Linked DNA regions of Homo sapiens: regions 1 and 3 are each linked to region 2. Evidence: fine-mapped expression QTL. A gene starts in region 2. Each other region holds a variant in brackets. All regions are shown on one strand. Distances are between the middles of the regions.

Region 1 (7,842 bases), 220 kb after region 2:
TCAGTTGTTTGAAAGGAGACATATTGTCAGCATATTTCAGACTTTAGCATGTTTGGTAATATTGAGAGTCATCATTTTTCTTCTCTACTTGCCTTTTATTGAAGAGTAGAAAATAATTCTTATGTCTACACTGGCTTTCTGTTCACTTTTTTAGTGATTTTTTTCTCCTTTGCTAATGTGTAGATTGCCGTGTGCCATGAACTCTATAATACCATCCGAGACTATAAGGATGAACAGGGCAGACTTCTCTGTGAGCTCTTCATTAGGGCACCAAAGCGAAGGTGAGTTCGAAGCACATCAGTACAGTTGCGGGGGATTTGGTCCAGAGTCCATGTGTATTAAAGTGTTTGGAAATTGAGCTTTTTGTTGGCAGGAATGGCTTAAATGATACTGGGGTCCAATTTTAGTCTTTAGTCTTTAGTAATCAAGCTGTAGTGAAGCTTTTTTTAAATTAAAAATCTGTTGAGCCAGGCACAGTAACATGCACCTATAATCCCAGCTACTTGATTTTTTGAGCCAGGCACAGGAGCATGCACTTGTAATCCCAGCTACATGGGAGACTAAGGCAAGAGAATTGCTTGATCCAAGGAGTATGACACCAGCCTGGGCAACATAATGAGACCCCGTCTCTTAAAAACAAAAACAAAAAAAATGACCTATGCGGAAAGATCTCTTGAGGCCAAGAATTTGAGACCAGCCTGGGCAACATAGTGAGACCCATCTCTACAAAAAATTTTTTGAAAAATTAGCCAGGTGTGGTGGTGCTCACCTATAGACCCAGCTACTAGGGAGGCTGGGGTGGTAGGATTGTTTGAGCCTGGGAATTTGAGGCTGCAGTAAGCCATGAGTGTCACTGCACTCCAACCTGGGTGATGGAGCAAGAGCTTGCCTAAAAATAAATATTTAAAAAAGAGTACTGACCAGGCACAGTGGCTCACGCCTGTAATCCCACCACTTTGGGAGGTCTATAGGTGGGCAAATCACCTGAGGCCAGGAGTTCGAGACCAGCCTGGCCAACATGGCAAAACCCTGTCTCTACTAAAAAATACAAAAATTAGCCAGGTGCAAGGCTGGGCGCAATGGCTCATTCCTGTAATCCTAGCACTTTGGGAGGCGAAGGCGGGTGGATCAGCTGAGGTCAGCAGTTTGAGACCAGCCTGGCCAACGTGGTGAAACCCCGTCTCTACTAAAAATACAAAAATTAGCCAGGCTTGGTGGTGGGCGCCTGTAATCCCAGCTACTTGGGAGACTGAGGCAGGAGAATCACTTGAACCCGGGAGGTGGAGGTTGCAGTGAGCCGAGATCGTACCGTTGCACTCCAGCCTTGGTGACAAGAGTGAAACTCCATCTCAAAAAAAAAAAAAAAAAAAAAGCCGAGCATGGTGGTGGGGCGCCTGTAATCCCAGCTACTTGGGAGGCTGAGGCAGGAGAATTGCTTGAACCTGGGAGGCAGAGGTTGCAGTGAGCTGAGATCCCGCCACTGTATTCCAGCCTGGGTGATAGAGCCATTCTGTAGGTTGCCTTTTCATTTTGTACGGTGTCCTTAGATGTACAAAAGGTTTTAATTTTCATGAAGTTTATGTTGTCTTTTTCTCTTGTTGCCTGTGCCTTTGGTGTCATATCCATGAAATTAATGCCAAATCCAATATCATGAAGCTTTTCCCCTATGTTTTTGTATTAATCAGGGTTCTCTTGGACAGGACTAGGCTGCAAATTTTCCAAACTTTTATGCTCTGCTTCCCTTATAAAACTGAATGCCTTAAACAGTACCCAACTCACCTCTTGAATGCTTTGCTGCTTAGAAGTTTCTTCTGCCAGATACCCTAAATCATCTTTCTCAAGTTCAAACTTCCACAGATCTCTAGAGCAGGGGCGAAATGCCCCAGTCTCTTTGCTAAAACATAACAAAAGTCACCTTTACTCCAATTCCCAGCAAGTTCCTCATCTCCATCTGAGACCACCTCAGCCTGGACCTTATTGTCCGTATTGTTATCAGGCTTTTGGTCAAAGCCATTCAAGTCTCTAGGAAGTTCCAAACTCCCACATTTTCCTGTCTTCTTCTGAGCCCTCCAAACTGTTGCATCCTCTGCCTGTTATCCAGTTCCAAAGTCGCTTCCACATTTTCGGGTATCTTTTCAGCAGCGCCCAACTCTACTGGTATCAATTTACTGTATCAGTTGGTTTTCACACTGCTGATAAAGACATACCCGAGACTGGGAAGAAAAAGAGGTTTAACTGAACTTACAGTTCCATATGGCTGGGGAGGCCTCAGAATCATGGTGGGAGGTGAAAGGCACTTCTTACATCAGTGGCAAGAGAAAAATAAGCAAGAAGCAAAAGTGGGAACCCCTAATAAACCCATCAGATCTCATGCAACTTAATCACTATCACGAGAATAGCACGGGAAAGACTGGCCTCCATGATTCAGTTACCTCCCTCTGGGTCCCTCCCACAACATGTGGGAATTCTAGGAGATAACAATTCAAGCTGAGATTTGAATGGGGATACAGCCAAACTGTATTGGTTTTCCTCTAAGAGTTTTATAGTTTTAGCTCTTACATTTAGGCCTTTGATCCATTTTGAATTTTTATAAGTAGTGTTTAGGTAAGGATCCCGCTTCATTCATTATTTTTTTTTTTTTTTTTTTTTTTTTTTTTTTTTTTTTTGAGACGGAGTCTCGCTCTGTCGCCCAGGCTGGAGTGCAGTGGCGGGATCTCGGCTCACTGCAAGCTCCGCCTCCCGGGTTCACGCCATTCTCCCGCCTCAGCCTCCCAAGTAGCTGGGACTACAGGCGCCCGCCACTACGCCCGGCTAATTTTTTGTATTTTTAGTAGAGACGGGGTTTCACCATTTTAGCCGGGATGGTCTCGATCTCCTGACCTCGTGATCCGCCCGCCTCGGCCTCCCAAAGTGCTGGGATTACAGGCGTGAGCCACCGCGCCCGGCCCCCGCTTCATTCTTTATATGTGTGTATCCAGTTTTCCCG[G/A]TATCGTTTGTTGAAAAGACTGTGCTTTTCTCATTGAATGGTTTTGGCGCCTTTGTCAAAATTTGCTTGACCGTGTATGTGAGGGTCGTTTCTAGGCTCCATTCTATTCCATTGGTCCCTGTGTCTGTTTTTATACCAGTAGCACACATTTTGATTACTGTGAACAACATATTCAGTGGCAAAATACTTAAAGCTTTTCCTCTAAGATCACGAACAAGACAGAGATGCCCACTTTCACCACTTCAACACCTTGTTCACTGTGGAATAAATCCCACCTGGTTATGGTATATAATCCTTTTAATATCCTGCTGAATTCAGTTTGCTAATATTTTATTGAGAAATTTTGCATCAGTATTCATAAGGGATATTGATCAGTAGTTTTCTTGTAGTATCTTTGTCTGGCTTTGGTATCAGAGTAATGCTAGCTTCATAGAATAAGTTAGGACGTGACCTCGCCTCTTCAATTTTTTGGAAAAGTTTCATAAGGCTTGGTGTGTTAGTTCTTGAAATGTCTGGTTAGAATTCATCAGTGAAGCTATCAGTCTAGGGATTTTCTTTGTGGGAGATTTTTTATTACTGATTCAGTCTCCTTACTAGTTATAGGTTTACTCAGGCTTTGTATGTCTTTAGTAGGTTGTGTGTTTCTAGGAAATTATCCATTTCTTCTAGTTTATCTAATTTGTTGGCATACATGTTTTCCTAGAACTCTCATAATCCTTTTTATTTTTGTGGCATTGGTTGTAATGTCTCCTCTTTATGATTTTAGTTATTTGCATCTCTTTTCTCCCTTACTTCTTCCCTCCCTCCCTCCTCCTTTCTGTCTTTTTTTGAGACAGGATCTTGCTTTGGCACCCAGGCTGGAGTGCAGTGGCAATCACAGTTCAGTGCAGACTCAACCTCCCGGACTCAAGCAGTCCTCTCACCTGATGCTACCATACCTGGCTAATATATATGTTATATATACGTGTGTATGTATATAGTAAACACATAAAATATATATATTGTATATATAACGTATTTTTTATTTATATATGTAAAAATATGCTGGATTCTTACCTAACGCTACATACATATTAAAAAATAACGTATGTAATGTTAGGTAAGGAGATATATGTGTGTGTGTGTGTGTATATATATATATATATATATATTTTTTTTTTTTTTTTTGGTAGAGACAGGGTTTCCCTGTGTTGCCCAGGCTGGTCTCAAACTCCTGGGCTCAAGTGATCCTCCTACCTTGGCCTCCCGAAGTGCTAGGATCACAAGTGTGAGCCACCACACCCAGCCTCTCTCTCTCTTTTTTTTTTTTTTTTTTGAGATGGAGTTTCGCACCAGGCTGGAGTGCAGTGGTGCGATCTCGATTGTGGCTCACCACAACCTCCGTTTCCCAGGTTCAAGCGATTCTCCTGCCCCAGCTTCCCGAGTAGCTGGGATTACAGGCATGGGCCACCACGCCCAGCTAATTTTGTATTTTTAGTAGAGACAGGGTTTCTCTATGTTGGTCAGGCTGGTCTCAAACTCCCGACCTTAGGTGATCCGCCTACCTTGGCCTTCCAAAGTGCTGGCATTACAGGCGTGAGCCACCGTGCTCAGCTCTTTCTTTCTTAGTTAATCTAGCTAAGTGTTTACCAATTTTGTTGATCTTTTAAAAAAACCAACTGTTTAATTTTTAAAATTGTTTTTCTATTCTCTAATTTCGTTTATCTGCATTCTATATATATATCTATATATATATTTTTTTTTTGAGACAGTGTCTTGCTCTGTTGCCCAGGCTGGAGTGCAGTGGCGTGATCATGGCTTATTGCAGCCTCTGCCTTCCAGGTTCAAGTGATTCTTATGCTTCAGCCTCCCAAGTAGCTGGGATTACAGGCGTGTGCCACCATGCCTGGCTAATTTTTGTATTTTTAGTAGAGATAGGGTTTCACTTTGTTGCCCAGGCTGGTCTTAAACTCTTGACCTCAAGTGATCTGTCCACCTCATCCTCCCAAAGTGCTGGGATTATAGGCATGAACTACTGCACTGGCCCTCCTTTCTATTTATTATCTACTGCTAGCTTTGGGTTTAGTTTGCTCTTCTTTTCTCTAATTCCTTGAGAAAGAAGCTTTTTTTTTTTTTTTTTTTTTGAGATGGAGTCCCACTCTGTTGCCCAGGCTGGAGTGCAGTGGCACAGTCTTGGCTCACTGCAACTTCCACCTCCTGGGTTCAAGCAATTGTCCTGCCTCAGCCTCCCGAGTAGCTGGGATTACAGGCATACACCACTATGCCTGGCTAATTTTTTTTGTACTTTTAGTAGAGACGGAGTTTTGCCATATTGGCCAGGCAGGTCTCGAACTCCTGACCTCAGGTGATCCACCCGCCTCAGCCTCCCAAAGTGCTGGGATTACAGGCATGAGCCACTGCACCTGGCCGAGAGTGAAGCATGTTTTTTAAATTATTTAATTTTTTTGTTTCATTTTGTTTTTTAACACCTGGTTCACATAGGCAGTATAAAAATTAATAGTTCTTATGGCTGGGCGCGGTGGCTCATGCCTGTAATCCCATCACTTTGGGAGGCTGAGGCGGGTGGATCACTTGAGGTCAGGAGTTCGAGACCAGCCTGGCCAACATAGTGAAACCCTGTCTCTACTAAAAATGCAAAAATTAGCCGGGCGTGGTGGTGGGTGCCTGTAATCCCAGCCACTTGGGAGGCTGAGGTGGGAGAATTGCTTGAACCCGGGAGGCGGAGGTTGCAGTGAGCTGAGATTGCACCATTGCACTCCAGCCTGGACAATAAGAGCAAAACTCCGTCTCAAAAAAATTAAAAATTAATAAAAAAAATTAATAGCTCTTAAGACTGTATTGAAGTTGTCACAGTGATAGTTAAAAGGGATCAGTTTTTTAAATTACACAGAGAGGCATCTTGCACACAACTTCCTATGGAAGGTATGTTCCCCTAACTAGAACATCTTTCCTCTCTTGCTGTCAAAATATAATCACTATTCTCTTCAAAACTCTGGCAATTGGCCAGGCGTGGTGGCTCATGCCTGTAATCCCAACACTTTGGGAGGCCGAGACAGGTGGATCACCTGAGTGCAGGAGTTCGAGACCAGCCTGACCAACATGGAGAAAGCCCATCTCTACTAAAAATACAAAATTAGCCGGGCGTGGTGGTGTGCACCTATAATCTCAGCTACTCGGGAGGCTGAGGCAGGAGAATCACTTGAACCCAGGAGGCAGAGGTTGCAGTGTGCGGAGATAACGCTGTTGCACTCCAGCCTGGGCAACAAGAGTGAAACTCTGACTCAAAAAAAAAAAAAAAAAAAAGCCAAAAAAAAACCTCTGGAAATTGAAGTTATTTGTTCTGAAAACGTATATGAGTGTGTTAGTCAGAAAACTGGTGCCCAAATATTTCCACATTCTAATCCCTGAAACCTGTGAATATATTGTGTTACATGGCAGAGGGGAATTAAGTTTGCTAATCAGCTGATCTTGAATTGGAGCGGTTATCCTGGATTATCCATGTGGGTCCAGTGTAATCACAAGGGTCCTTAAATGGGGAAGAGGGAGACAAGTTCAGTCAGAGATTTGAAGATGCTGTAGTGCTGGCTTTGAAGATGGAGGAAGGAGACTACAAGCCAAGGGATGCAGGTGAGCTCTAGAAGCTGAAAAAGGCAAGGAAACCTTTTTCGCTAGATGCTCCGTACTAGAACATCCAGACGGCATGCAGCCCTGCTAATACCTTGATTTTAGACCAGTGAGACCCATTTTGGACTTCTGACCTCTAGAACTAATATAATAAATGGGTTTTGTTTTAAGCCCTGAAGTTTGTGGTAATTTGTTACAGCAGCTGTAGAAAGCTGTGAGTTAACTAAAGATTTAGATTCATTCATGATTGTTGATGCTACAGTGGGTAGTTACCAAGCTCTAAGTTGAACTGGAGGCAAATTTCTCACCTCAACGAGCAAGCCACTGAGAATGCAGTGTCATCATCCTGAATTAGGAGAGCCCTGTAAATTAGCAAATTAGCCATGGCCAAAAAGGAAGCATTGTTTTTAAAATGAGGTAACTGTCTCCATATTTGAGTTGGTTTATCAATAATAGTCTTCTGAAAGTTGTCATTTAATTAGCATAAAGTAGTAAAAGCATGTATTTATTGTTTGCCACATTCTAGACACAATACCAAGCATTTTCCCAATCATATCTTATTTAAAATTCTGAGTTATCACAGTTTATAGGTGAGAACTTGCACAAGTTCTTGTAACTACTAAAAGATAACTGGTGTTCAGACTAAAGTCGTTCTGACTCCAAAGCCTGTGCTCTTAACCATTATGTGGTATAGAGTAGCAGCATCACACTGAAGTATACAAAACAACTTTTATAGAAGATACCGTCCCTCTGCTGCCTCCTTTTTGCTGGCAGGCGAGTGCTGAGGGGCAGAGGATACACACCTTGGGTGCTGGACCACTGTCATGTTACAACCTCGAAGATAATGGTGCCTTTTTTCTGACGCTCCTCTGTGGAATGTATGTTTTTTTCTCAAGTATTTATGAGAATTAGTATTGCTCAGAGCTACACAATTTGTGAATATCTTTTTGATACTTTGTTTCAGTTACTGTATTAGTCTGCTTTGTGCTAGGACATGCAAATCAACAATGGCTGAAACAAAAGAGAAATTTATTTCTCTTGTGTAAAAGTCCTGTTCTGTGAAGTTGTCAAGGTACAAGTATTAGCCAACTCTATTCTGCGGTCTTTGTGGTATCACCCTTGCCTGCATGGTCTGAGATGACTCACTACCACAACTGCCTTCCAGCCAGTATGGAAAAAGAATGAATGTTAAGGACATGACTTGGATATGACACACTTCAGCTCTCGTATTG
Region 2 (7,842 bases):
CAGCCTGCCTGAGGTCAGAAAATTTTTCATGACCCATTTTTTACCCTGAATTGACAAGTTTAGAAAACAGGTTAATGGACTACTTCATCCTCCTGGACCTTGAAAAGCTGGCTGACCAATATTAGACTACTACTGCTCAATTAGTGTGCTAGGGAAACCTTTTTGCTGCACATGCAGATTTTTCTGTGACATTTTGACTAGATTTTGAGGGCTTCTGGGGACTATGCTGTTTTCCTTTGTACACCATCTTCATCCTTCTCATTTGAAGCAGAGTTGAAGTGGCTAATGCAGGGAATGCATTTATGGAAGCTTGCACGCTATCTGCCTTTGTTCAGCAATGCAGGTGGCTCCTAGCATTTATCTATGTTATAGATATGTGAGGTCAGGGAAGGGTACTTACTAACCTCTGGAAAAGATGAGCTTCTTGATAAATATTTATTGACTTATGGTAGAAGCAAACATAGAAAACTAGTTCAGAACTTAGCCTTAATATGCCTTTTCTCCTGGAAGTAAAATATTCTCACTGTGAGAGAGAAGACATTGGACCTTAGCTTCCAGAGGACCTGGATACACTTTACTTGCTCTCTAGTACCAATTCAGTCACGAATGTGGTACCTGAATACAATTTAAAAGCTTTAGGAGGCCTTAGGTAGGGTGGGACTCAGAATCATTTCCCTCTCTCAAGCCAAAAAGTGTTTCTGAGGGACACATAGAATATCAGGCAATCTAGATGGGAACATTTGGGAAAACTATCACAGGCAATTATATTTACTTGGCACCTATATCACCAAAGATTGTTCTATTTGAGACACCATTTACTGGTTTAATTGATCAACAGTGGAACACACCCTGGATTTGAACTCTGATCCTGTATATTGAGGATGTGCCGTGTGTGCACACACCAGTTCAGAAGTGTTCTGTGTTATCAGTAGGAAATCTGTTGGTCTTATGAAGTTAAATGAGTAGAAGGCATCACTACAAAAAATGAAGTACAAATCTTGGTGGGGACCAGATGCCCCCTTTGCAAGCTTGGATTTCCTTGCTCCTGGGTCCACTGTAAGCAACCATATGTTTGTCATGGTGCTGACTCAGAAATCGTAGGACAGAGAGCCTCCTGCAAAACCAAAAAGAAATGTTACTTTCCTGCGATTATAATTCTTCCTTGACTTTGTTCACTTTAGATGTTTTACTAGTGAGTTTTGATGACTCCCACCCCTTATGTGAGAATGTGCATACTTTGGAAACTTGAATTTATCCAAACAAGCTACCTATGACTTAGAGTTTGGGCATAAGTTTTAAATTCAATGCTCAGTCGAACTGGATCTGGTTCCAGGCCCACTCCAAGGGTGGTTTCAGGGGTGTTTTTTCAGTACTTGTCCCAGACCACACAGGTAGCCTTGTTTCTGAGGGCAGCTTTATGGGGAGGTGTAGAAGGTGGTGGGCAGCAAATGCACTGCAGAGTCATTTTCTTGGGTATGGTGTTTAAGAAGCCTGAGATTTTCACAAGAACCAGCAAAACCAGGAGTGGAGAGTTGGGGAGATAGAGAAGTAGGCCTAAAACTCCCTCTTCTTGAGTCTTTTTTGACTTAATACACCATTGGGTCTGTCCTGGTGCTATGGCCTATCACAAAGGACTGTTTTAAGAGAGAAGCAAGCCACAGCCTTGCCAGATAAGTCTCCAACACCAGCAGAAAAGCACGGACCCTGATCTGTGGGAGGCAAGGGTCTCCCATTATTTCTGGAGGCAAATGGTGCCTTCTAGTGAAATGGTGCCACCATTTGCTGATGGGGGTGCCTGTTCTCAGGATGTGTGGAAACTCAGGCCTGAGGGTTTCTACATGGTTTATTCAATCTAACTGCATACCTAGCTTGGCAGAATGGAGGTGGACAAAAGTGCTGAAAGGATGAGGGTAGGCTTTTAGGGCAAATCAAGTCACAAAGCAGATGATTGAGGGAGGTTACAAAGCTTAGGCAGAGTTAAAGTTGGGCAGTCCATTAGCTCCTTTTGCAAGAATCTCTGGAGACGGTAGTTTGAATGTTTCCCTTGAGATTTCAAGTGCTCATTTCTTTTCCCCTCCCTTCCTTTCTTCCTTTTTTTTTTTTTTTTTTTTTTCATTGAATATTCTCTGAAGACAATCAGAGGCCTGCCAGGGAGGGACTCCTGGCTGGTTCCAGCACTGTCCTTAGGCCTCTTTTTAATACTAACTTGTTGGAACTGATGCACTTTGTTTAATGTATTTTACCTTTTTTTTTTAAAGCTGCTCATTTAGAACAAAATCAAATGCTTATTGCATTGTATCCTTCCTGCTTGCTGTTTTTCCTCTTAATTTCAAAAGTTATGCATTAAAGATAAAAGTACACTTAAGAAGTATGCACAAGAATACCTATTAAAATAACTACCATCAAGTTTGATGGTATAACTTCAAAGGATTAAAAAAAACTATTTTGGATTAATATTTTGCGTGTTTTTTTTGTAAATATGATTGTATATAAACTGGTGGTACGTTATGACAGTTTTAAGTGGTTGTGAGAAAACTAAAGAGAACAGGTCTTAAGCTATGTTTAACCTTAACTTTGTGCTGATTTGACAACAAGGAAGGCATTTTGGCCAGAGTAAATTTTTTAAAACTCTTTCCAGCGGGACCTCAGAGAATCATTTCCAAATAGATGAGAAGTTCCTTCCTACTTTAATAAAACTCCGGAATTCTTCCCCCTCTCTTGCTGTCTCATCCTTTACCTTCTGGATTTAGGTGCTTTTTAATTCCAGTTCAGGAAAGATAGGAAGAGTAGAATTTCCCCACAGCAACCTTGCTCCTGACATTGGGGATTCCGCCCCTGATCTCTGAAGACTGCTTCTTGTTTGTTCCTCTGTGAGCCTTAAGGATTCCTCCACAGCTGGATGTGCAGAACAATTCTTTGTCAAAAACATCACTTTTCAGCTCTATGTCCAATTTTCCTTGAGCTGTCTGTGTCTTCAAGCAATCAATAGTCTCCTTATGCCCAACCACAATCTATTCTGCTTTAAGACGTAGCCTCTTGTTTGGTTCTCTCTAAACATGTACTGTTAACTGTTGAGCATCCTCATAAGATCCCTCTTAGACTAAAAGACAGTCATGCAATTTTAATTTTCCCTTATCCATTTATTTTTTTAATCTGATTTTCTGTATTTGCCCACGGCCAGTACTTGTGGAGAGTTTAAAATTTTATAAATTAAAATTCCATTTAAATTAAGCATTTTGTCGCATGTTCTCTGTACCAGGCACCATACTGAATTTGAATTGAAGGGTAAATAAAAATAATTCCTGCCCTCAGGAGGCTCACACTTAGCTGTGGGAGAGAGACATGTGTACAGCTGTCAAATTTAGCAGTCTGAAAAGTTTTGGTGGAACAGTACACACTAGGTAATGTGGGAGCAAGAGGGAGAGGGAGGTCAGAAAGGCTTTGACACATGAGGAGCAGTTCATGGAGCAGGGAAAAGGGAATGGCATCCATGCAGCTAGAATGCTACATAAAGGCACAGAGGTGTGAAAATGTAAGAGAAGGCTGGAGAATTGCATTTTTATTCTCTAATCAGGTTAATATTCCTGTTCACCAAGAAAGCTTTTAGCTAGCATATAACCCTCTTAGGTAATTGGAATTTGGGGGGCTATTTAATAGGAAACTTTTTCCTAGAGATGATATTTACCGTTGAAAACACGTAGCTCAGTATCAACTGGACTTACACCATATGTTCACTGACATTCTGCAGCAGGAAGGTCAGCGGCTCTAGAGCACCAACAAGAAGGTATCCAGAGAGAGCCCAGATTGGGCTGGGAGAATGGGTGAGTGTCAACTGGACTTACACCATGTGTTCACTGACATTCTGCAGCAGGAAGGTCAGCGGCTCTAGAGCACCAACAAGAAGGTATCCAGAGAGAGCCCAGATTGGGCTGGGAGAATGGGTGAGTGTCAACTGGACTTACACCATGTGTTCACTGACATTCTGCAGCAGGAAGGTCAGCGGCTCTAGAGCACCAACAAGAAGGTATCCAGAGAGAGCCCAGATTGGGCTGGGAGAATGGGTGAGAGAATGGGGACTCAGGGTCTTGTTAAAGGCAGAGCACAGGTTCTGAGAAGTTGGAAAGGGTTAGATGGGAGTGTGTGTGTGCAGGGGGATGTTGGAGCCTGGAAAATACCAACCATTTGTCTTTTACACTCTAAAGGTAGTTGTGCTCCCCAAGTGAATAAGGTGGGACATGTGCACGTCAGGTTTTCAGTGTGAAACCTGGTATATTTCCAAATGAAAGTGATTGGATTCAGGTGACCATTTAAATTATGTCTATGAAAAAAGAAAATAGACTTGGGGCCTTGATAAGCCTTTAGCTAGGGAAGTAGGAAAAAGACTCAAATGTCTGGGTTGGAGGGAAGACTCCTGTACTCAGTCTCAGATTGTTTTCCTTATTCACTTGCTTCAGAATAATCCAGGCTGCAAACTATTGGGACCCACCCCAGAACTACTGAATCACGATCTCTGAGGGTGGAATTCAGGAATGATGATAATTTCTCCAGGATATAGGGATTTTCCTTAGAGGGAAAAATAATTTGACCACAGGCCGTCCCAGCTCCTACCTCCGGACCTGGAGCTCGTGATTCCCAGGCTCTCATTCCGGTCTGCGGTGGCCGGCTCACCTGGCCTGTCTACCTGCGGGCGTGGCGGGGTTGGAGAGGGGAGCGGGACCCGCGACCCCGCCCCGTGGCCCGGCCGGAGCCCCGCCCCTCGGGGGCGGGTGGGGAGAGCTGCCGCGGCCGAGGCCCGCCCCAACCTTGGCTGCGCCAATCAGGCACTGCGATCTCAGACGTCGGGTTACGCGCGGCGCGGAGTCGGCGGCCGGGCGGAGGTACCGGCTCAGGCTTGGGATCCCGGCTGCGGGTTTGGCGGCGCTGCGCCGGCAGGCAGCGAGGCCGGGCGGGCCCTGGGCCCTCGCGCCCCTCCCGCGAGGCCTGTCATGCAGGGCCCCGCCGGGAACGCGAGCCGGGGACTGCCAGGCGGGCCGCCCTCCACAGTCGCGTCCGGGGCGGGCCGCTGCGAGAGCGGCGCGCTCATGCACAGCTTCGGCATCTTCCTGCAGGGGCTGCTCGGCGTCGTGGCCTTCAGCACGTTAATGCGTGAGTCTGGGACCCCCCGACCCTCCGGAGGCCCTGCGCGGCAGCCGCGGCCCGGCCCCCCTGGGGGCCCCTCCTGCGCGGAGAGTTCAGGCCTTGGGACCCGAATTGCTCCTCCCCCGCAAACCCAGGCTGGGTATTCCTGCACTAGGGGTAGCCCGAGCCCCTCACCTACTCGCTGTGGCCTCCAGACAGGAGTGACCCTTCCCCTTTCCACCTTAAACGTCTGTCTTTTGAGACGCCAGTCTAAAACTCGCCTACCTCCCACCTTACCATCTCGAATTGTTACCCCACTTCCCAGCCTGGAATCATGACCCCCAAGGGTGACATCCCCTTGTCCGCCCCTTCTCAGGGGCTCTTCGTGCTTAGAACCCACATCCCTCAATCCCCAGTGCGATGCTGAGCTCTTTTCTGCCCCTTCACTCTTCAAGGATCTGCCTTCTCCGTTCACATTTAAATCCTGCTACTTTGCATCCCTCTCAACACCTGGAGTGTTAGGGCCATGCCTTCCGTTTCCCAGTACCCGCCTCCCTCTCCGTGGCCCTTCTTCCTCAGCTTTAGTTTCCCTTTTGTCAGGGTAGGACCCACCCAGTCTGCCTTCTTCCCCAGATCCCCTTCCTCTCGTTTCTTCCGGAACAGGCCCACCTGTTCCATCTCTGTCCCAAGCTTTCCTAATAAGCCGCATCTATAGCTTCCCCTGGCTGTTCCCTTTCCACTTTTATTCTTTATATTTTAAGTTTCCTTTTCCATTAAACTTGGGCACCTTAGTGGCTGAATAGAGAAGGAAGCCCCCACCCTGTTCTCATGTGTGCTGATGGGGGGTGGGGGGGGGCTTCTGTTTTTCATCGTGTGCATCCTTCCCTTATTAAAGTAACAAGAAGTTTTGCTCGACATGTAAGCCTAGGAGTGCCCTTGTGACTGCGTTTTAGGGGGAAGGAAAGGTTATAACTATCTGTGCAGAGTCATTAATTCCAAAAATGACTTGTTCTCAAAACTTCCCCACTGTGCTTGTGTGGACAGAGTGGAGAGTTCCTGCAGAAAGTATGCTTTGGGGTACTCAGGAGGGATCTTGCAGCTGTGTGCCTTTGTCTTGTGGGGTCCAGTTGCTGGAGTGGCCACCTTGCTTGTTTATAACTTGGGGTTTCTTTGAGTGAATTCTCTCAGGCTTTAAGTAACCCTGAAGAGGCTCTGATCATGGATACCGCGTTCTTCTGGTGGCCTGTCCTTGATAAGTCTTATAAGTGCCCAACTGTCTATGTTTGCCACTTTTTCTTTCCTTTTTAGTCCCAACTTGCCTTGCTTTTTCTCTGCTAAACAAATACCCACTTGTTCCCACAGTAATAATTTGTGACAACTTAGCCAAAATCCGCTGCTGACTTGGGCGCATGTACTGTACGTGTGTGTTTTCAAGACATGGTGAGTGGATCTTCATACCCCTCCTACTTCTCTGTCCTCCAGACAGCCTTCCTTTCTCTCTGAAGGAAGTGTAGGTTAAATTTTTCTTTTGCTCCCTAACCTGAGGTTTCTTAGCCTAGCTCTGGCTGTTTCCATAGGTTTGATTGATGCTGATGGCCCGGCTTGTCCCCTAGGGTTTGACACTTGTGATTCAGAGAAGGAAATGTGATGATGACAGGGCAGAGTTGCTCACAGCTGAGAAGTGTATCGGGTTGAATGTGTTCTGAGTGGAGTCTTCAGGGACATATTCACTTCTTTACTTAATCTTCAGCGTGAGCACATGTGCAAATCCCACTGTGGTTGGTACTTTCTGTGTGCAGAGATTGAACTAGAAAGCAGTCTCTTGTTCACTGTGAGGCTTGACGTGGACGGAGCTTGTGGAAATGGCTGGTGGGTCCTGGGGTGATGTGGGTAGGAGTGATGGGGAGAAGAGCTGGAAAGGCTAGAGCTATGTCTGCCCTGACACAGAAATGGAGGTGAGAGCAAGAGCCTCCTCCCCCTACCTAGAAGCAGACAGAGCAGGCCAGGGCAATGGTACTCTGGGAGCTGGACAAGAAGAAGCCCACTGACTGGGATGCAGTCAGGGTGGGGCCCTTCTTATCTCTCAGATTTCTTGGTCCTGTTGAAATAGAACTGCGAGGCTTTTCCTTCTTGAACTACTGGGAAGAGGAAGAAATCTCTAAGGTGGAAGAGGAACGAGATCAAGGTAGCCTTAAGGAAGTACATCTGCGAGCCATTTGGCTTTGTCCTGGGCTATTAGTCCTCCGTCCTTCTCAGTCTGGCGGAGCTGCCAGGAGGGGCATCTGTTGAAGGCCAGGCTCCCCTGACGAGGGTCCCCCTCGCAGCCCTGAGGGAGGGAAGTCTTAGTGTGTGTTAAGGTGAGGCCACTCCATCCTTCCTCAGTTCTGTTATCTTCAAACATTTTAAATACCAACCAGTCTGTTCTGAGCAGTTTAAACAGCCGTTGTCCTTTGAGGGGCTGTTTTTGAGATCACAGTCTTTTCCCTTCTGAGTACCCGTGGCCCTCGAGGCAATGGGCTCACTGCCTGTCTTCTGGAACGCTTCCCCAGTCCTGATGGCCAACACTATTGTTTCCTGTTGGACCAGCTCTGACTGTAGAATGAACCCATTTCTCTGCAGACAAGCTGTGAGGTAGTTTTCCTTACTTCACCTCCCTGATTTCAGTGACCCCTCAGACCACTGTCTTTATGTTCCTTTTTCTATCCAGAAAAATCACTTTTTTCT
Region 3 (7,842 bases), 58 kb after region 2:
TTATTTAAGAAAATAAGCCAAGGCTTTTCAGTGCTGTTGTCTTTTAGGGGTGGTTGAGGTGTGGGATTTCTGTTAGAAAGTGGTCTGGGGCCTCATTGCTGGTGTCTATAATGAGCATCCACTGTGTTCACCCCTCCAGCCCCCTGAAGCCCACACTCCACTCTCCCGGTGGGCACTGCTTGCCTTGCCCTGGCTTGGTGGCTGTAAGCCCACTGCACTTTGCAAGTCCACACTGAGGGGAAAGCTGCCAAAGCACCAGATGCTTAATGTGGTCTCCAAGGGTTCCTTGTGGACAGTCTCATCTGGGAACCCTAGGCATGAGGTGCTGCTCCCATTGGGCTTTGGAGGAAGCGTCTTAAGCTAAGGCTCCCTCAGGGCCTATGGGTACCACCCACCCACCCCAGGCACACTCTCGGTGGCCTCTCCCTACCTCACTGAGTCTGCTTCTCTTTACAGGTGGCCCTGTTGAATCCCATTGAAAACCCAGACTTGAAGCTGGCCATCGTCATGCTGATCGTCCCCTTCTTTGTCAACGTCAGTGCCATGTTGCATTTTTATCCCGATTTGCTCCCTGTCTGGCAGGGTTCCTGTCCAAAGTTCTGAGTCTGACAGAAAGCTCACCTGTAGCCCTCAGGTCTTTTTGCGTGACCATTTGCCACCTCTCCCACCCCCAGACCTGGAAATGGCAGGATTACCCCCTCAAAAGGCAGGGCCCCATACCAGGGCTCCCGTCCAGGATGGAGGGGCCTGGGAGCTTTGTCTTGTCCTCCCTGCCGAGGGGCCTCCCACCAAGAAGCCCCACCCATGTGTAGCGCCAGCCTCTAGTTCAGGATTGTTCCAAACGTACCCATCGTTCATTCCTGACCACGGATCTTGAGAAACTCCCGAGCACAATGGCTCGAAGTTAAGAAACAGAAGTGGTGAGGGAAGCTGGGACAAACAGATGACAGCAGGGTGTGCCGGCCACCCACATGGAGTCTGTGGGGAGGGGCCTGGAACGCGTGTCCAGAGACCTTGCTTCCAGGCCCCAAACAGGCTGTTCCCCCTAGTTACCACAACAAAAACCCGTCAGGGCACGTTCCTTGCACACTCTGATCAGAAAACTGAACCCGAGGATGTGGAGACTGGGAATCTCTTTCTAAGCTTTGGGAGAGAGCAGGGTGATTGGATTGGGTTTTTCTTTCCATAGCTCTGGATCTTATAACCTGGAATGGGAGTGGGCGGATGGGGGCTGTTCGGCTTTGCTTTGAAAAATGGTTTATCCCAAAGTAACCTGCACTTTTCCTTCCCACAGGCTTTGATGTTTTGGGTAGTGGACAATTTCCTCATGAGAAAGGGGAAGACGAAAGCTAAGCTAGAAGAAAGGGGAGCCAACCAGGACTCGAGGAATGGGAGCAAGGTCCGCTACCGGAGGGCCGCATCCCACGAGGAGTCTGAGTCTGAGGTAGGGCCTCCCTGACTCTCCAAGGGCCCAAGCCGTCGTATCGCTGGCCCAAGGGGGTCTCTGGTCTCATGTCTGTGTATGTTCTTCCCTTGAGTGCAGAGTCACAGTGCGAGCCAGAGGGCAGGAGAAGAGGCTGAGCCAGAGATGAGCGAGGGGCAGACAGCTCTGTCCAGCCAGGACCCATTCCCACTGTCCCTTGGGCCTGCCTAGGGCAGGAGGGCAGAGCAGATGGGAGTGGCTTGCCTGCGACAGTTCCTCTGTCAGTGGAGATGACAGACAGGAGAGGGAAGTTCTGCCTTGTTTGGTGAGCTGGCAAGGACCGTCATGGGCCTAATGGTTGATCTTCAAGCATTAGGATATTTGAATCTCTGCCCAACACTAAAGAGCAAGGGAAGTGTTGGCTCAGACAGCTGGAAACTTCTAAAATATAGGGGTAGCCAGACCTTGCAGGAGGAAACTCATCCCCCCCTTATTTTCTGGTCTTCTGAGTTCAAGGGTTTGGACCTCAGGGAAGAACGGTGGCCATGAATAGCAGCCCTGAGGCCAGGATATGTGTTCTGGCGGCCCCGCAGCACTCACCCCACATCTGCGTGCAGGGCCAGCTCGTGGGAGGCATGGGAGGCCTAGGAAGTGTGCAGGTGGGAGCTGCAGAAAAGCTGAGACAAACGTCTTCCCCGGAGAGGCTGTCAGACACGTGGGTGAGGTGCAGGTGGACACATAAGTATTTCGTCATGACACCGTAATATGTTCTAAGATTGAGGCATAGGCAGAACCCAACGAGGGCCCTGGGACAGCCTGGAGGGAGTTTCAGAAGACGAATAGATAGTAGGACAGAGGGGAAGCCGTGTCTTCTCTAGGTGCTTGTCTCTAGAATCTGGCCAGCACCTGTCATATGAGAGCTTGGTGAACATTAGGTGAGTGGCAAACAGTGTTATGGGCAGAAGCAGCAGCTCATGAGCATTCACAGTCACATGGTTTGGTGTCTGGGCCATAGTGTGAAATGCACTGTGGCTTGTATTCTGGAGCATAGGACAGAAGGACAAGAAGTGAGGCACAGGCTGAGCTAGATCGGCAATGCCCTGTGATCCAGGCTGAGGCATTGGGATGTGCTCGTACAGGCGGTGAGGAGCAGTGGGAGTGTGGTGGTCGGGACCGAGACTAGAGGCAGGAAGCCCCGCAAGGGAACAGTGCAGGGAAGAGGAGGTGAGACTGCCTGCCCTGCCCTAGAATAGGAGTTCGTGTTTCCCTGCATAGGTGGGCTTTGGACCTCCTGATCCCAACCTAGGTGGTTCCAACCTTTCCCTGGTATTCAGAGGTCTAAGGAGCCAGGCAGGCGGGCAGCGGATGAGTGTGTTTGCCCCAGCTGCATGGCTGAGTCATTCCAGGGCCTTAGAACAGCAAAGTGCCGCTGTTTGTCTTCAGCAGTTACAGAGTTGGCTCAGAGCAGCCACGCTGAACTCCCCCTGCCCACAGATGCTTTCTCTTCCTTTTGAAAGGGGCTTTTCAGTCTGCCTCTGCAGTATTTAAGGCAGCTTCAACAACTGCATGTGTCATGGTTGAGCTTTTTTTAGCCAGGGTGACCTTAGGCTGCAGATCCCTGCTGAGTTTGTCCTGATGGAGGTCGGTTCCCCTGGAGGTGGACTGAGAAGTGGGGAGCATTAGCAGAGGAAGGGGGTCTGTCGACTCAGTGCTGGCTTCAGTAGCCCATGAGTGTCCTTGGAGTGAACATGGCCTGTGGAGGCTAGCACGTCTCATTGAGTACAGGGAGCTTCCCCTCACTCTCTTGTAAAGAAACATTAAGACTTGGCAAGGCATGGTGGCTCACGCCTGTAATCCCAGCACTTTGGGAGTCCGAAGCAGGTGGATTACTTGAGGTCAGCAGTTTGAGACAAGCCTGGCCAACATGGTGAAACCTCATGTCTACTAAAAGTAGCAAAAAAAAACAACGAACCAGGCATGGTGCCACGCACCTGTAATCAGCTACTCAGGAGACTGAGGCAGGAGAATCACTCGAACCCAGGAGGCAGAGGTTGCAGTGAGGCGAGATCGTGCCATTGCACTCTAGCCTGGGTGACAGGGTGAGACTCTGTCCAAAAAAAAAAAAAAAAAACATGAGACTTGAAGGGCCCAGGGTCCAGGGAGGGCAAATGAAGAAGGCCCTGCTGGGGGTGACTCAGGCCCTGCCTCTCTACTGCCTCAGATCCTGATCTCAGCGGATGATGAGATGGAGGAGTCCGACGTGGAGGAGGACCTCCGCAGACTGACCCCCCTCAAGCCTGTGAAGAAAAAGAAGCACCGCTTTGGGCTACCCGTATGACACATTCCCATGCTGGGGGTGACGGGAGGGCCCCGCCAGCCGCTGGTGTGCAGAGGTCATCCCGCAGCATCGTTCCTTACCCTCTCTCTGCCCTTCCTTTCTACCTCTGCTCCTCTTGCTGTCTCTGCCCGCTCTCGCCTGCCCCCAGACTACTGTGACTTAAAAAGAGGGAAGAGGAGCCAGCGCCCGAGGGGGCCACTGGCGGCTGGAGGTCCCCATTCAGTTGCACTACAAACACTGACCAAATATGCAAGGAAGGAGCTGTGTTTGTTTGTTGTCGTCCCAGACAGTGTTGTGAGGGACCTGAGGCCCTGCCCCGTGTCCGACCACCGAGTGGCAAGGTGGAAGGAAGCACAGGCACACAGACCGTGGGTGGGTCTCCTCACCGTGGCTGTGGGCAGTGCGAACACATAACACCCTCGGGCTAAAAGTGACTCGTTGACCAAGTTGGAACCGGAATGCTTTCTTACTCAAAATGGCTTTTGTAACTATTGATTTCTGAAGCTGGTTTTATGAGTTGTGACA[G/A]TGTTACCAGGTTGGGGGTATGTGTTTATTTCCTACAAAGTACTTACGGGACTAATGGGCAAAACAGAGATTTTTAAGTCTTCCGTATGCTGTTTGACTTTTATATTTTTAAGTTATATTTTCATACTATTGTATTTAAAAACTCTTTTTAGTCCCCAAAGAAATGGGTTTATTTGCCTTTCATGGGGTGTGGGCTGGCAGGAGGAAAAATCGGGAGTTTTTTATTTGGAATATTATTAGATGATGCCCTATGATAAGATGAGACAAATGATGGGGAGGGAAGGAGGATGGCCCTTCTCTAGAATCAGCAAACCCAATGGTTCTGTGAAGGTCAGACCCAAGCTTGGAGCAGCTGGTCTGGATGCAGATCCAGGAGCTGCAGAGTGTGGAACAGGAAAGGCTCTGCCCAGGGCCCATGAGCTCTAGCATTCCTGCTGGCAGATTAGAGATCTTAGTTAAATTTGACCAAGAAAGGAGCTTAGCTAAGAGGTCTTTGTTTCCAGAGGACCCAAGACTACCAGACTCCTGTGCAGTCTGCCTGTCTGCAGAGCCTCCAATCACGGTTTAAAGTGGTCTTGGCCTCCCAGCCCCCACTGCTGCAGCCTTCAGAGCCAGCCTCTGGACTCAGCGCCAGGAGCCTCCTCTCCTGCTGCCCTGGTACCTGTCATCCTAGTGTCACCTATTTGTTTTGCACAGCATTCTGGAGAACATGTGCCTCACAAAGTGATCCTGTTTTTCTCACCCTCCAAAGCTGAGGTGGCTAAGGGAGGCAGGGGTGAGAGAGCTCACTCTCTAAACCACAGGCAGGGCAAGGTGCTTCTAGGCCGTGTCCCCTCCCTGGGGAATGGTCACTACTCCTCAGCATGGCCACAGGCCCCTGTGGTTTTGGGAGTTTGCTGAGTGACTGTGGAATGGGCTGACCCCAGCCGTTTCCCTGCTGTGGAAACAGCAAGGTAGGGGCACTGCTTGGTGGTTTGTCAAGCTCAGAGGCAGCCACGGATGGTTAGGAACAGGAAGCCACACTGCTAAGGTGTGATGAGCTAGAAGGGAGACATCCTGGACTTCAAGTGAGACAAGTGCAGAGGAGGCCACTCCACTTAGGACCTTCCTTTTAGACCTGCATGAGCACGTGTTTCACTTAAGCACATTGGGTCCGAATTGGGCGCATGAACCCAGCTGTTAAACCAGGTACCCTGGGACTGCCCTCTGCCTCTCAGAGCCCTACCTGTCCTGGACTTGAAGGCGAGCATCAGGCAGGCCTTCTCAGCCCATCTTCCACCAGGAGTGCAGAGCCAGGGTGCTGAGAGGAGCAGGGACTGTAACTACAGTAGGAGGCAACTTTGCTGGTGTCATTCCTGCTCGGATTGACTTTGTGCTCCCTCCCATCCACAGCTATGGTAGCCAGTATTTCCCCAGCAGCTCTCTAGTGGGGAAGAGTGGCTAGAACCAGGCCATTCTCAGTCGAATTTAGGAAGACCAAGACTCATGTTCCTGACAGGACGGTCATTCCCTCATGGCATCACTGACTCAGTTCTAATTCCTCCCCTCCTGTTTCATTTTGGTTTGAACAACCTGTGCCTGCAGCTGTTTCTTCCACCTTCCTGGAGCTCACAATTGGAGCTTCATGTTCAGTCTTGAGCTCCTAATGTTTCCAGACAGGGCAGGGGATAGGAGAGCCATAATCTATGAAAGCTGTGAAACAAACCCTGGGTTATATAGATCTCAGATGGTCTCATCTGAAGGCTTTGCCCACTTCCCAGTGAGCAGAGGGTTTGGGGAACAAAGAGGTAGCTGAAGAGTGGTGGTTTTTCCCTGTATCCTGATTTTCAGAAAGGGCTTTAGTCTCTGAGCTGTGGCTAGTAGCTGGCTGGCTGACCAGGGGACGGGGGTCTAATAGGGTGTCTGACCATAGGACACCTCTCGTGTTTGGCCTTCCCTTTCTTGTGTGTTTGTGTGTGTGTGTGCACGTGCACGTGCACACACATGTACACACACAAATCTGTATCCCCAGGAGTGCCTCCTGCAGTCACTGGGGGCTCTTCCGTGGTGCACCATCCCATGAGAGCAGATCAGAGGGCTGTGGTCAGGACTTCCTCCCGAGCTGCCCTCCCTCCCTGGGATGAGTTTCCTCTCCACCTGCTCCAAGGTGCCTTACGAGGTGCAGCTCTTCACCTGGCCACATGGCATCCATCACCGTGTTGAGAAATGGTGGGACGTTGGCTGGATATTGTGTGCTATGAATCTGATTTGTCCAAATCTGGACCTCAGCCAAGCCACCTGTGGTGGAACCTTGCAAGTCAAGGTCATGAACAAATTTCTTGTAACTATTGGAAATAAACTAATGAGGTAGAACTGTCATATCCAAATGGAAGAGGTGGTTGGTACTGTTACTTCCTTTTGCTGTCAGAGGGTTGTTGACAATGGCAAGGGGGGATGTTAGTGAGATCCAGGTGGTGGTGGCTTCTTGGTCCACTCAGCTTGCACACATGCAAGAGGAGGGTCTGTGGCCCCTCAGCCGTGCTGGTGGCCTCCTTCCTCAAGCTTTAACTTGTGCCCTCCCTGGCAACAGGGAGTCATGGGTTAATGTCACCTGTCATGCCTCTTTCTTCAGGGAAAATATTAAAAGGCTCAAATCCAAGCTGTGACTTCCCTTAGACAGTGTAAGCCTGTAGGGTGCAGCCCCAAGTTTATGTCCAAAGGCTGCCTCAGAACCCTGGAGGGAGCAGCGCCCAGCTGGCAGCTCACTCTGCCCTTGCAGTTCACTGGCCTTTTCGCAGCCAGGCTAAGATAGGCAGTGCAAGGAGCTTCCCACTGGCCAGAGCAGCTGCCTTGTAGAATGTGGGGCTGGCTTTTAGAAGTTTCACACGCTTGCAGCTAAGAGTGCAGAGCTCTCTGTTTTACTTCGTGAAACATTAGCAGCTCTGAGGGGCTTGGCTTTTGGTAAGGGACTTATGGTCTGACTTGCCACAAGCACCTTGAGCTCCTGGGTTGGTTGGTGGTTGGTTGGTTGGGTTGTTTTAAATTTGATTTTTCTTTTCCTGAAGTTTGTTAGAAGTCAGACCTATGCAAGGAAAACCATGGCCCACTTCAGCAGCCATCCAGTGGGGGTGCTTAATCGGTGGTGGTAGGATTCATGGAAACGTTTTTTTGAAATGAAAGAGAAGATGATGTACTTACATTGTAAAATGGTTTACAATAAAGTTTGGCATCTTATTACAGTTTTTTTTAAAAAGAAACCATCACATTTGTGGTTGTGGTTGTGGGTTCTCTGGAGTTGAAACAGCTTGGCAGGGTCAAAAAAGATTCCCCTGTGAATTAGAAGGTTCTCCCCAGGGACCAGAGTGAGAAGGAACCTTACGAAGCCTCATGGCAGGAGTGGGAGCCAGCAACTGCCCAGTGAAAAGCCAAACATGCTCTTGCCATGTCCATCTCCACTTCTTCGCTAGTGAGAATTAAAGCAAGTCCGTCTCTGAGGAGGACATCGTGTTGGGGAGGTAGAGTATAAGCAGTGAGTAGCCCACATCCTTGTCCCTGAGGCTGCGGGGCTGGAAGGAGG

The links. PIP is the estimated chance that this variant, and not a neighbour inherited with it, causes the effect.
Region 1: its variant is the best candidate, but not a certain one, in a credible set for the expression of STIMATE-MUSTN1 in subcutaneous fat (GTEx, PIP 0.55).
Region 3: its variant is the best candidate, but not a certain one, in a credible set for the expression of STIMATE-MUSTN1 in pituitary (GTEx, PIP 0.80).

What each region holds. Positions count from the first base shown.
Region 1 is chr3:52,670,939-52,678,780 of GRCh38, reverse strand. PBRM1 (polybromo 1) reads left to right here. Exons shown (of 32, transcript NM_001405607.1): 3 at 184-281. Among named protein-coding and RNA genes, the nearest start is that of PBRM1, 11 kb to the left of the region's middle. RefSeq lists an enhancer at 7,324-7,493. The variant G/A (reference allele first, on the strand shown) is at 2,987.
Region 2 is chr3:52,894,594-52,902,435 of GRCh38, reverse strand. STIMATE-MUSTN1 (STIMATE-MUSTN1 readthrough) reads left to right here and starts at 4,888. Exons shown (of 10, transcript NM_001198974.3): 1 at 4,888-5,145. The coding sequence starts at 4,986. STIMATE (STIM activating enhancer) reads left to right here and starts at 4,888. Exons shown (of 8, transcript NM_198563.5): 1 at 4,888-5,145. The coding sequence starts at 4,986. RefSeq lists a silencer at 4,626-5,335.
Region 3 is chr3:52,836,413-52,844,254 of GRCh38, reverse strand. STIMATE-MUSTN1 (STIMATE-MUSTN1 readthrough) reads left to right here. Exons shown (of 10, transcript NM_001198974.3): 6 at 457-534; 7 at 1,295-1,444; 8 at 3,645-3,755. It overlaps STIMATE (STIM activating enhancer), which reads left to right. Exons shown (of 8, transcript NM_198563.5): 6 at 457-534; 7 at 1,295-1,444; 8 at 3,645-7,522. The coding sequence ends at 3,761. Among named protein-coding and RNA genes, the nearest start is that of MUSTN1, 5.3 kb to the right of the region's middle. RefSeq lists enhancers at 3,951-4,452, 6,636-6,805. The variant G/A (reference allele first, on the strand shown) is at 4,287.